3 linked regions of the Homo sapiens genome follow. The protein of the gene in region 3 interacts with the protein of the main gene of each other region in a pairwise test. Each region holds a gene or a part of one and is shown on either strand. Other genes may lie near its edges. The genes, in order: TGFB1, TFAP2A and TNXB.

Evidence for each region.
Region 1: the proteins of TNXB (region 3) and TGFB1 interact in binary tests that used the Homo sapiens proteins (3 or more experiments, as listed by UniProt).
Region 2: the proteins of TNXB (region 3) and TFAP2A interact in a two-hybrid assay, tested with the Homo sapiens proteins (one large-scale study listed by IntAct).

Annotation. Positions count from the first base shown.
Region 1 is NC_000019.10:41,329,795-41,333,443, forward strand, and holds the end of TGFB1 (transforming growth factor beta-1 proprotein preproprotein), read right to left. Parts: intron 2,488-3,649; coding exon 2,334-2,487; intron 1,417-2,333; coding exon 1,258-1,416; 3' UTR 529-1,257; downstream 1-528. UniProt on the Homo sapiens protein: Transforming growth factor beta-1 proprotein: Precursor of the Latency-associated peptide (LAP) and Transforming growth factor beta-1 (TGF-beta-1) chains, which constitute the regulatory and active subunit of TGF-beta-1, respectively.
Region 2 is NC_000006.12:10,408,478-10,412,126, forward strand, and holds part of TFAP2A (transcription factor AP-2-alpha), read right to left. Parts: exon of another isoform or gene 3,120-3,649; coding exon of another isoform or gene 3,093-3,119; intron 1,859-3,092; coding exon 1,424-1,858; intron 1-1,423.
Region 3 is NC_000006.12:32,092,192-32,095,840, forward strand, and holds part of TNXB (tenascin-X isoform 3 precursor), read right to left. Parts: coding exon 3,420-3,649; intron 3,001-3,419; coding exon 2,885-3,000; intron 1-2,884. UniProt on the Homo sapiens protein: Appears to mediate interactions between cells and the extracellular matrix. Substrate-adhesion molecule that appears to inhibit cell migration. Accelerates collagen fibril formation. May play a role in supporting the growth of epithelial tumors.

The sequences.
Region 1 (3,649 bases), on a different chromosome or scaffold from region 3:
ATTTTAGTAGAGACAGGGTTTCACCATGTGGTCCAGGCTGGTCTCAAACTCCTGACCTCAAGTGATCCCCCTGCCTCAGCCTCCCAAAGTGCTGGGATTGCAGGTGTGAGCCACCGTGCCCAGTCTTTTTTTTTTTTTTTTTTTAAAGATGCAGTCTTGGCTGGGTGCGCTGGCTCATGCTTGTAATCTCAGCATTTTGGGAGGCCGAGGCGGGCGGATCACCTCAGGTCAGAAGTTCGAGACCAGCCTGAACAACATGGTGAAACTTCGTCTCTACTAAAAAAAAATACAAAATTAGCCGAGCATGGTGGCGCATGCCTGTAATCCCAGCTACCCAGCTACTTGGGAGGCTGAGGCAGGAGAATCGCTTAAACCCGGGAGGCAGAGGTTGTGGTGAGCCAAGATCTCGACATTGCACTCCAGCCTGGGCAACAAGAGTGAAAATCCGTCTCAAAAAAAAAACATAAAAAAAAGATGGAGTCTTGCTTTGTCACCCAGGCTGGCATACAGTGGCACAGTCAGGGCTCACTGCAGCCTTGACCTCCCAGGATCAAGTGATCCTCCCACCTTAGCCTCCAGAGTAGCTGGGACCACAGGTGTACATTTTTTAAAAGTGTTTTGTAGAGATAGGGTCTCACTATGTTACCCAGGCTGGTCTCAAATGCCTGGATTCAAGTAATCCTCCCATCTCTGCCTCCCAAAAGTGCTAGGATTACAGGCGTGAGCCACCCCGCCTGGCCTGAACTACTATCTTTTATTGTCTTCTTCACTATCCCCCACTAAAGCAGGTTCCTGGTGGGCAGGAACTCCTCCCTTAACCTCTCTGGGCTTGTTTCCTCACCTTTAAAATGGGTGTTATCAGAGTCCCTGCATCTCAGAGTGTTGCTATGGTGACTGAATGAGTTCATTAATGTAAGGCACTTCAACAGTGCCCAAGGTGCTCAATAAATAGATCTAACTACAGTAGTGTTCCCCACTGGTCCCCTGTGCCTTGATGCCGGGCAAAGGAATAGTGCAGACAGGCAGGAGGAGGCAGAGAGGGAGAGAGAGGGAGTGGGAGTGGGGGAACGTCAGGGATGGAGACCCCAGGCAGGCGCCCAATGACACAGAGATCCGCAGTCCTCTCTCCATCTTTAATGGGGCCCCAGGTGGGCTTGGGGCACGGGTGTCCTTAAATACAGCCCCCATGGGCAAGGCAGCGGGGGCGGGGCGGGGTGGGGCCGGGCCTGCCGGGGCGGGGCGGGGCGGGGCGGGACCTCAGCTGCACTTGCAGGAGCGCACGATCATGTTGGACAGCTGCTCCACCTTGGGCTTGCGGCCCACGTAGTACACGATGGGCAGCGGCTCCAGCGCCTGCGGCACGCAGCACGGCGCCGCCGAGGCGCCCGGGTTATGCTGGTTGTACAGGGCCAGGACCTGCGGGCGGCGGGCGGGGTCAGGGCTCAGGGCTCGTGGAGGGAGGAAAACGGCCCTCCACTGCCCCATCCCCCACCCGCTACCGCGCCAGCCTCTCTCACTTCGTCTCTCCCCGCATCCCCTCTTCCCATCTCCAATTCGGTCTCTCTTATCTTCTAACATCCTATCTTATTCTGTCTCTCCCCACCTGTCTGATTTTCTTTTTGTTTTGAGACTGGGTCTCGCTCTGCCACCCAGGCTGGAGTATAGTGGCACGATCATGGCTCGCTGCAGCCTCAACCTCCTGAGCGCAAGCCATCCTCCCGCCTCAGCCTCCGGAGTAGCTCCAACCACAGGCAAGCGCCACCACTCCTAGCTTTTTTTTTTTTTTTTTTTTTTTTTTTGGTAGAGATGGGATCTCAGTCTGCTGCCTGGGCTACTCTCGAACTCCTGGGCTCAAGCGATCCTCCTGCTTCAGCGTCCCAAAGTGTTGGTATTACCATCGTGAGCCGCCGCGCCCGCCTGATTTTCTTTCTCAGTCTCTGTCCCTCCTCATCTTCGCCTCTTGCCTTGTTGTGTATCTGTCTTTGTCTCTCCTTGGCCTAACTCTGTGTCTGTATCTGTCTCTCTCATTTTGTCTCTCCATTTCTGCGTTTTTCCTTCCATCTCCCTGTCTCTCTTCTCCCCTTCACCCCCATCCCTCTGTTACTTCACTCTGTGGGTCTTCATAGCTCATCTCCCTCTGGCCCCTGCTCAGAGCCCCTCTCTAGCTTCCTGCCTCTCTCCCCATCTCTTTATTCATTCCCCTCCCCACCCCATCCCTCTCTTTCTCCCCATCCTGCCAACTCACCTCTCTGACTTTACTTCTCTTTCTCTCTCCTCTTCCTCCGTCCTGGCTCCCCCCAAGCGCATCTCGTAGCCCGGTGGGCCAGACGTACCTTGCTGTACTGCGTGTCCAGGCTCCAAATGTAGGGGCAGGGCCCGAGGCAGAAGTTGGCATGGTAGCCCTTGGGCTCGTGGATCCACTTCCAGCCGAGGTCCTTGCGGAAGTCAATGTACAGCTGCCGCACGCAGCAGTTCTTCTCCGTGGAGCTGCAGGCAGGAGAGACGCGTCAGGGGCAGGGAGGGGCTACCACCATAGAAGCCACATGCCCCTCCTCCCCAGGTGCGTGTGTCACCCTAGGTTGCCCCCCCAGCCCTATCTCCATCTGGGTCTCCCTTGCACCCACTGTGTTAATAACAACACAAATAGTCATGATAATCACTAACACAGATTAAGCACTTCCTCCAGTGCTAAGAGCAATGTAATAATTAATTTCACGCAATGCTTAAGACAAGCCTGTAAGAAGCCAGATGACCATCCACGGGGGGGCTAAATAAATCATGGCATGCCACACCCTGGAACATACAAAATAACACAGCTCCATGTAAACTGATCTGCTCTATTTGTGCAACAAATGTTTATTGAACTACTACTGTGTGCTGGGCTGGGATCTACTGTGGACTGAGGACAAATGAAACAGATAGAAATAGGCTAGGCATGGTGGCTCACACCTTTAATCCCAGCACTTTGGGAGGATGAAGTGGGAGGATCGCTGGAGTCGAGGAGTTCGAGGTTGCAGTGAACTATGATAACACCACTGCATGCCAGCCTGGACAACAAAGTGCAAGACCCTGTCTCTACAAAATTTTTTTTCAATTTTTTTAAAAAAGAGACAGAAATCTCTGCCCTCCATGGGCATGCTATAAATTGTCTTGTCACTCCTCTGCTCTGAACCTGGCTCCATCTCACGGCAAATGCCCAAGTCCTCACCGTGAGCCACAAGGTGCTATCAAATCTGGCTGATCTCAACTCCCTCTCTCACGCCTACTCCACTCCAGCCACACTGGCGTCCTGTCTGTTCCTCAGACAGTCTTATTTCGGGGCTCCTGCATCTGCTGTTCCCTCTGCCTGCCTTGCTAGTCCCACAGATACCCACTCCAGCTTGTTCCTTCACTTCATTTCTTCTTTTTTTTTCTATTTTTTTTTTTTTTTTTTTTTGAGACAGAGTCTCACTCTGTCTGCCAGGCTGGAGTGCAGTGGCATGATCTCGGCTCACTGCAACCTCCGCCTCCCAGGTTCAAGCGATTCTCCTGCCTCAGCCTTCCGAGTAGCTGGGATTACAGGCGTGTGCCACCATGCCCGGCTAATTTTTTTGTCTTTTTAGTAGAGACAGGGTTTCACCATGTTGGCCAGGCTGGTCTCGAACTCCTG
Region 2 (3,649 bases), about 22 Mb from region 3:
AAAGATTCAGAGTGCTTTGGGAAAGGGAACTAAAATAATCATAACTCCCAGTTCATGTTTAAATTGCTCTTATATAAATTAGTGCTCCTCTCACTTCCAAAAAAATGCACTGTTAAGTATCAGTTTCTAAAAACATGTAAGTATGAACACACATATACAGACATACAGTGCTCACTAAACCTTATACTGGATCAAGTGCCCACTTTCCTGCCTTCCATGCAAGGGCTGCTAAACATAACCAACAAATTTCAGTGACTAACTGGGCCAAATGAGAGATGTAATAAATTTTCTATTTTCCTACGGAACTTAAATAATGTTTTAAATTCACCAAGCAAGGAGGTAAGTTCATCTGACCATTTTCCTTACAATCTAATGTAGTAATCATTAAACTGTCAACGGACATACTGCTGCAATATTTGATGCAGTAATTTGAAATAGCATTTTAGTAAAAATCACATCCAGATACATTTCCTCTCCAAAGAAAAGCAGCTTTAACAGAAGCCTTTACAGCTTTAATAAAATTATTGGCTTGCTCTAATTCCATTTCAGGAGGGTTGTGAGGAAACCATAAATATATAGAATTGAAGCAGAGGTACTGGTTTAAGTTTAATTCCAGAAAGTATTTTCAAATTATCAATAGCCTGGTTTGCATTGTAAATAGTAAATGTGCTAATGCCATGCTTATTTAGAAATCATTTTAAACTGCATTTATTGATAACTAAATTAGAACTCAAATAATGTATTACCCAATAGTCTCGAAACATTTAATTTAATATGGAGTGTAGCAGGTTCTGATAGGCGTTGGGAACCTAGCTAATGATTTATGAGGTCACCACTTAGCACCCCTAGTAAGAAGAAGGCTGCATTTTAATGTCCCTCTGCTTGGATTTGCTACTTAGTTTTTCTTTAATCAGGATAGGGTGTACACATAACTTTTAGGTTTCACTTGTGCTTATAAAATCCGGTTAAAATGATCTTAGTGTGTCTTTTACACTTCCTTTTACATTTTGAGGACATTTAATGAGCTCTTTTGGTTGCATTTAACATCATTCCCAGGACAGGGAGAAATCTCCACGCCAGACTCAGCGATGGAAGTAGATCTTTTAGCAATTGAGACAGTTTACTGTCGTCGAGAGGAAGATATTGTTAATGGTGACATTCGTCTGATTTATCTGTGTTGGTGGAAATGGTAATGCAGGCATTGTTTGAGGGAGCTCCAGAAACCATTGTTCTGGGGTAGAACTCGCAACTACTTTGTGTGGTTCCTCAAAACGTCCCTCACTCTCCGCCTCCGAATAAAATGTTTTTATAAGGAAATACTAGGGAGAACCCGGGCCCACCGACTGTATGTTCCAGGTATCCTTTCTGGGGTAGGTAAGTAGGGGGCTGTGTTCCCTCCCGCGCTGGTTGCGCGGCCTCTTACCGGGACCTCCTCGATGGCGTGAGGTAAGGAGTGGATCGAGAGGTCTCCGAGTCCTGAGCTGAGCGCGTGTGGGCCGTGCAGGAGGTCCTCGTGCCGCCTGTAGTCCCTGCGAGGATCCAGGCCCGACAGCTGGTGAGGCAGCCCCCGGTGCGTGTGCAGGAGCCCAGACTCCTGGCTCTGCCTCTGGCCGGGCCAGCCTGGGTGCTGCGGCTGCGGCTGGGCGTGCAGGGGGTTCAGGCTGTAGGGGTCGTTGACGTGGGAGTAAGGATCTTGCGACTGGGGGTAGATAGGCTGGTAGGGTGGGGGGAAGTATGGGGGCTGGAAGTCGGCATTGGGGGTGTGGGACAGCGGCGGGGCGCTCGTGTAGGGAGATTGACCTACAGTGCCCAGCTGGGGCAACCGTGCCGTCCCGTTGCTGGTGCCGTCGTGACGGTCCTAGAAGAGAGCGAGAGGAAAGGTAAAGAACAAGGAATCAGGCGTCGAGCTACAACTATCCACACAAAATCCACTTGACAAGTCTGCGTGGGAAATCGCCCGTTCCCGTTGGCTGGCCGCCGGGAAAAAATCAGCTCTAAGTTCTTTTCAGGAAATACCCTCAAGTGAAACAGACCGAACAACGCAGAGAAACTGTATATGGAGGGGGCACAAGAGACTATTTAGGGGTTTCTTTCAAAGAGAGGAAAAGATAGAAAAGGGTCTCCTGGAACACAGCCCATTAAACTGCAGCGTGAAATCTCTCTTAAGCAAAATTAAAATTCCTCCTAAATACTAAACAGCAGAAGCGGCCTTTTCTTTTCCCCCGATTTGAACCTGTCTGCCACTGCGTTATTGTTTATTCTCTTCCATTTATTTGGAGAGAAAAAAATCATAAACGTTCAAAGACTGTTACCGTTTCATGACTACTTAAATAGAAACATATTTCGCAGAGGGGCTGTAACAAAAACACACGTTTAAATTACCAGCTTAAAGAAGGTTTTAACTGCAGGATCGGGGTCTGTCTTTTTCGCTTCCTCTGTTAGGAGCCTTTTTCTCGACAGAGTCGATTTATGGTTTGGATAGGGAAAGGGGGACGTCAAGTCAAGGTTTAAAATAGAAAGATTCAGCCTTATTGGGTTTAAAAGAGAGAGGTGCACCCCGGGGCTGTGGCCCCCCCCCCCCGCCCCTTCCACCCCAGCCCCAAAGGGCAGAAGAAACGCCTGACTTTAGGTTTCTCTATTGCAATTCCCTTGCAAAACAAGCGAAGAGAGTTGATTCCAGAGACCGCGAACCCTCGGCGGTTCGGCCGCAGGTCCCGAGGGTAGGGGGCACACCGCGCTGCACTTTTCCTGCAGACAGTTTAAGCATCAAATGTTGAGAACATCTCGGGGACAAGTGAAGACTCAAGGAAATCAAGATGAACGTGGGGAGAAACACGCCTTGGGAAGCCGCGGCGAGGTAGGTCTGCGTGCTCGGAGAGGTCGAGCGGGGGCTGGGGTAGGGGGTAATGCACTCGATTTAGGGATGGAAAAGAGCGAGAGAAAGGCGGAAGGTGGGGTGGGGGATGCAAATGGAGAGGGTGTCCTGAAGGAAAGCTGGGCGTGAAACCCGAGGTTTCGGGCAGCTCCACGGCACCAGGTTTCCAGAATCCAATTCCTAAAGAAACAGCAACGGGGGTGGGGATGGGACTCACCATGGCTGAAAAACTGTGAACTAACATCTGCGAAGAGTCTGGGGTAACGAGTCAGGGTGGAAAAAAACAAGCAAGCCTGGAGCGCCCGGCTGCCCCGCCGCCCGAGCGCGCCCCACACAAAAGGCGCCGAGAGCCCCGCGCCACCCAGGACTCCAGTCACGGCGCCGACGCTCCCCGGAGCGCGGGAGCCCGGCTCGGATCCATCCGAACTTGAACCACCGATTCGCGCGGCGCCTTCAGCTGGTCGAACCCACGGTCTCTATCCTGCCGCGACTGGTTATGATTCAAAGTTCTTTAAAAATGAAAAACCCCAAAAAAGGAAAAAGGAAAAAGTATGTGTGAGTGTGTGGGTGCGTGCGTGTTCCTTAATCCGTGTCTCCCCCTCTTTTCTTAGCGGCGGCTTCGCTTGAGCTTCTAATAACCGCGCTGGGCAGCGTTCCTGGAGCCTCCTAATAGCAGATATTCATGACTATTAATATTACACGAATACTTAATAAGGGAAGAATGCCTGGAAATCGAGCGTGAAGCGGAGAGGCAACTCGCGCCGGAGCCGGCTC
Region 3 (3,649 bases):
TTCTGACTCAGTAGATCTAGTGGGGGAGTCTGACAATTTGCATGCCTAACATACTCCCAGGTGATGCTGATGCTGCAGGTCCAGGGAACACACTTTGAGAACCACTGAGTCAGAGTAACAGTGCCACATATACAGGGAGAGGAGAAACTTTCTTCTTCTGCATTCTGAAAAATAATTCCAATAACTAGGTATGTCCCTTGATCTGGAATAGCAGAGTTTGGGCTTTGAGAGAGAAGTGCTTCTGGGAAGAGGGAAGGTAAGAGGTAGAGATAGGCTTCTAGGATGACAGCAGCAGCCAGAGGACAGACAGCTATTGAATATACTCTGTACCCACAGAAATGGACAAAGGGTAGCTGGGCATTGTGGCAGGTGTCTGTAATCCCAGCTACTTGGGAGGCTGAGGCAGGAGAATCGTTTGAACCTGGGAAGCAGAGGTTGCAGTGAGCCGAGATTGCGCCATTGCACTCCAGCCTGAGCAACAAGAGCAAAACTCTGTCTCAAAAAAAAAAAAAAAGAAAGAAAGAAAAGAAAAGAAATAGATGGCACTTGCCAAGGCAGAAGGTACGATGCCAGGGACCAGCTACAGACAGCAGAAAGCATGGTCTGAGGGTGGGTAGCCCAGGCCCAAGAGGAGTGTCTGGGGACCAATTTTACAGGAGTGTTTTCCACACCCAGGCTCAGAGAAGACCCAGAATGTGACAGATGCCCATACCGAGAGCAGAATGGATGAGCTAAGAACATGGCCAAGCCTGGCACAGGCCAACTTGGCACCACCATCCTGGCTCTGAGTGAGGGAGAAAGTCTAGGGCTTCAACTGGAAAGCGGCGCCCTTGACAACACCAAGGATCGGTTTGTATTTATTTACTCAGAGCAGGAGACAACTGCTGCCCTAAAAGCTCCTCTTATCTCAAGTGTTTATTTTAATTCTTCTTTCCCTGAAATTTCTTAAGAAACTTCCTTTTCGAAGTCCCACCCTTTCAAGATTAGAGCTATGTAAATAATATATACAGAGAAGAAGAGAGTGGGAGAAACACTTTAAAATGTTAGCAGTGCTTGTTTTAGTGAGGAGCAGCCAGGAATTGTTTTTCTTTTCTCTAGTTGCCAAATTCTTGTCTCGTGATTAAAGTATTTTTATAACAACAACAAAAAAAGATGTTTAAACAGAAGAAAAAATTCAAGCTATCTTGGTTGCGCCACGAAGTTGAGATTTCTGCTTCTGCTTTGGCTGGAGAGTGAGGAGAGGCAGAACATAGTAGGGGGCTGGCCTGAGGAGCATAATGACAAGACAAAGCAAAGTGGAGTGAGGATGACAGTTCCTCTGAGCTGTCCCCTTCTGTCCTAGTGCCTTCCGAGGCTTTAGGCCCAGGGAGTTGTTTATTTTTACAGAGTCCTGGCTAAGCTGATGAAGATGAGGATGACATGGCCCACACCCCATATGGCATTTGTGGGATGATGCAGGAAAACATGAGTTGGATGGTAGAAATGTCAGAAGATTTGCAGCTGGGGAAACGACCATATCTTAAAAGCCCAGTCTGCACAAAGGGAGGCCCCAAATAAGTGACCACAAGGCTTTGTCCTTAGGGTGTTCCCTCTAATGTTTTAAGAGCAAGTTGGATGGCCAGGAGTGGTGGCTCATGCCTGTAATCCCAGCACTTTGGGAGGCTGAGGCGGGCAGATCACTTGAGCCCAGGAGTTCAGGACCAGCCTGGGCATGCAACATGGAGAAACCCCGTCTCTACTAAAAATACAAACATTAGCAGGCTAAGGTGGTGCACACCTGTAGTCCCAGCTACTTGGGAGGCTGAGGTAAGAGGATGACCTAAGCCTGGGATGCAGAGGTTGCAGTGAGCTGAGATGGCACCACTGCACTCGAGCCTGGGCCACAGAGTGAGACTCTCTGTCTCAAAAAAAAAAAAAAAAAAAAAAAAAAAAAAGAGCAAGTTGGAGGGAGACAGAGAAAAAACTGGTTTGCATGTACTGATGACAAGGAGGTGGGAGATGAAGTTCACAGACTCAAAATTATTGCAACAGCCTAGACAGCTTGGCCCAAACCAAAAAAGATAACATTGAACAGGGCCAAATGCAAAGGCCTATATTTAGGTGAAAAAAAAAAAAGTGTATATAGTTGAATGTTGTCTTCTTTCCTTCCATCTTTTTTCCCTGCTAATCTGTATTTTCTAAGTTTTCTGCACGGGGCCTATATTACTTTTATAATTAAAAGTTACTTAAAAAACCAAATATGACCAAAACAGCTGCCTGCTTGTGTGACTACAAATTGCTATACGCCAGCTCTGAGAAAAGTGTCCATAAATTCAGAGTAAGTCAGTGGGCCCCTCTCTGTCCCCACATTTTGGGGGCACATGAAAAAAGCAAGAATCACAGGAAGGTAAAGGATTCAGAGAATAAAGACTTAGGGAAAAGGGGCGAAGAAACTGGGAGGTTTTGCCTGAGGAATGAAGACATCAGGCTGGTGTCTCCAAATACCTGAAGGCCTGTGGTGTAGGACACAGGGAAAGCAAAAAACATTCCAGCTGCTGATGAATACCCAGCTAGGGCCAACGGACAGGTGCTAGAATAGGGGCAGACGGATTCTGCAACAATGATAACAGCTAACAGTGATGACCAACAATGGACTGGACAGCCTCAGGAAGTACTGAGCTCTCTGTTACCAGGTGTTCCAACTGTGTGGGACCAATGCTTGCTGGAGATGCTGCAGAGGCCTCAGTGCCCAGTGTCAAGCAGGCTAAGAAAGCCTTTACAGCAGCTTCAGGTACCCAGCCATCTGGACTCAACCAATGATCACCTGGAACTTCCTCCAGGAGGTGAGCCCTGCCCCCCTGTCCTGCCCACTCAGTCCCCTCCTGGAGCCTGGCATCTCTCTCACCGTGGGGATGAACTGAATTTCATAGGCATCCACGGGGCCAGGAGCCGGGGTCCACTCTGTCCGAACTGTTGTCTCCTCCAAGAGATGCATCCTCATGCCCTCAATGGTTGGCACCTCTGCCCAAGAGAATGGGTTAGGGAAAGCTGGTTAGCACAAGGCAACCACCCCCACCCACAGCCCCTTTTACTCAGGGACATCGAAGAGGCCCATCCTAACTCCCACTCCTCTCTGCTAGTGGAGAATAGCTGACAGAGGGCTGAACGGGGCTTGGATCGCCTTCACCTTCTCTCCATCTTCAGGAGCACAGAATCTCCCTAAATGCAACTAAATGGGCCCCAACCTGCTCCTCAGAGATCTGAAGGCCAGTCCTGCCCACTGGAAAGCCCCACCCCTGTGGTTCTGCTGCCCCTGGTGGGCACTGGCTCCTTGGAATGACATGCTCTCCCTCCACTCTTCCTCAGGCTCAGGTCTTCCCCATGGCTCCTGTTCACAGAATCACAGTCCCAGAGTACACTGGGGAAGGCTGCCTGCTCACCTTCTCCGCAGTCTTCGCCAGCATACCCATCTTTGCAGACACAGCTGCCATCGTGACACTCTCCTCGGCCACGGCAGTCCCCTGGGCATGTCTGGATGGCACAGTCAGGGCCTCGGAAGCCCTCTACACACACACACTGGCCTGCCCGGCACAGTTCCCGGGGCCCGCAGCCTCCAGGGCAGGCGCTGGCTGGAGGCTCTTCCTGCCCGCAGTCCTCACCGCCATAGCCC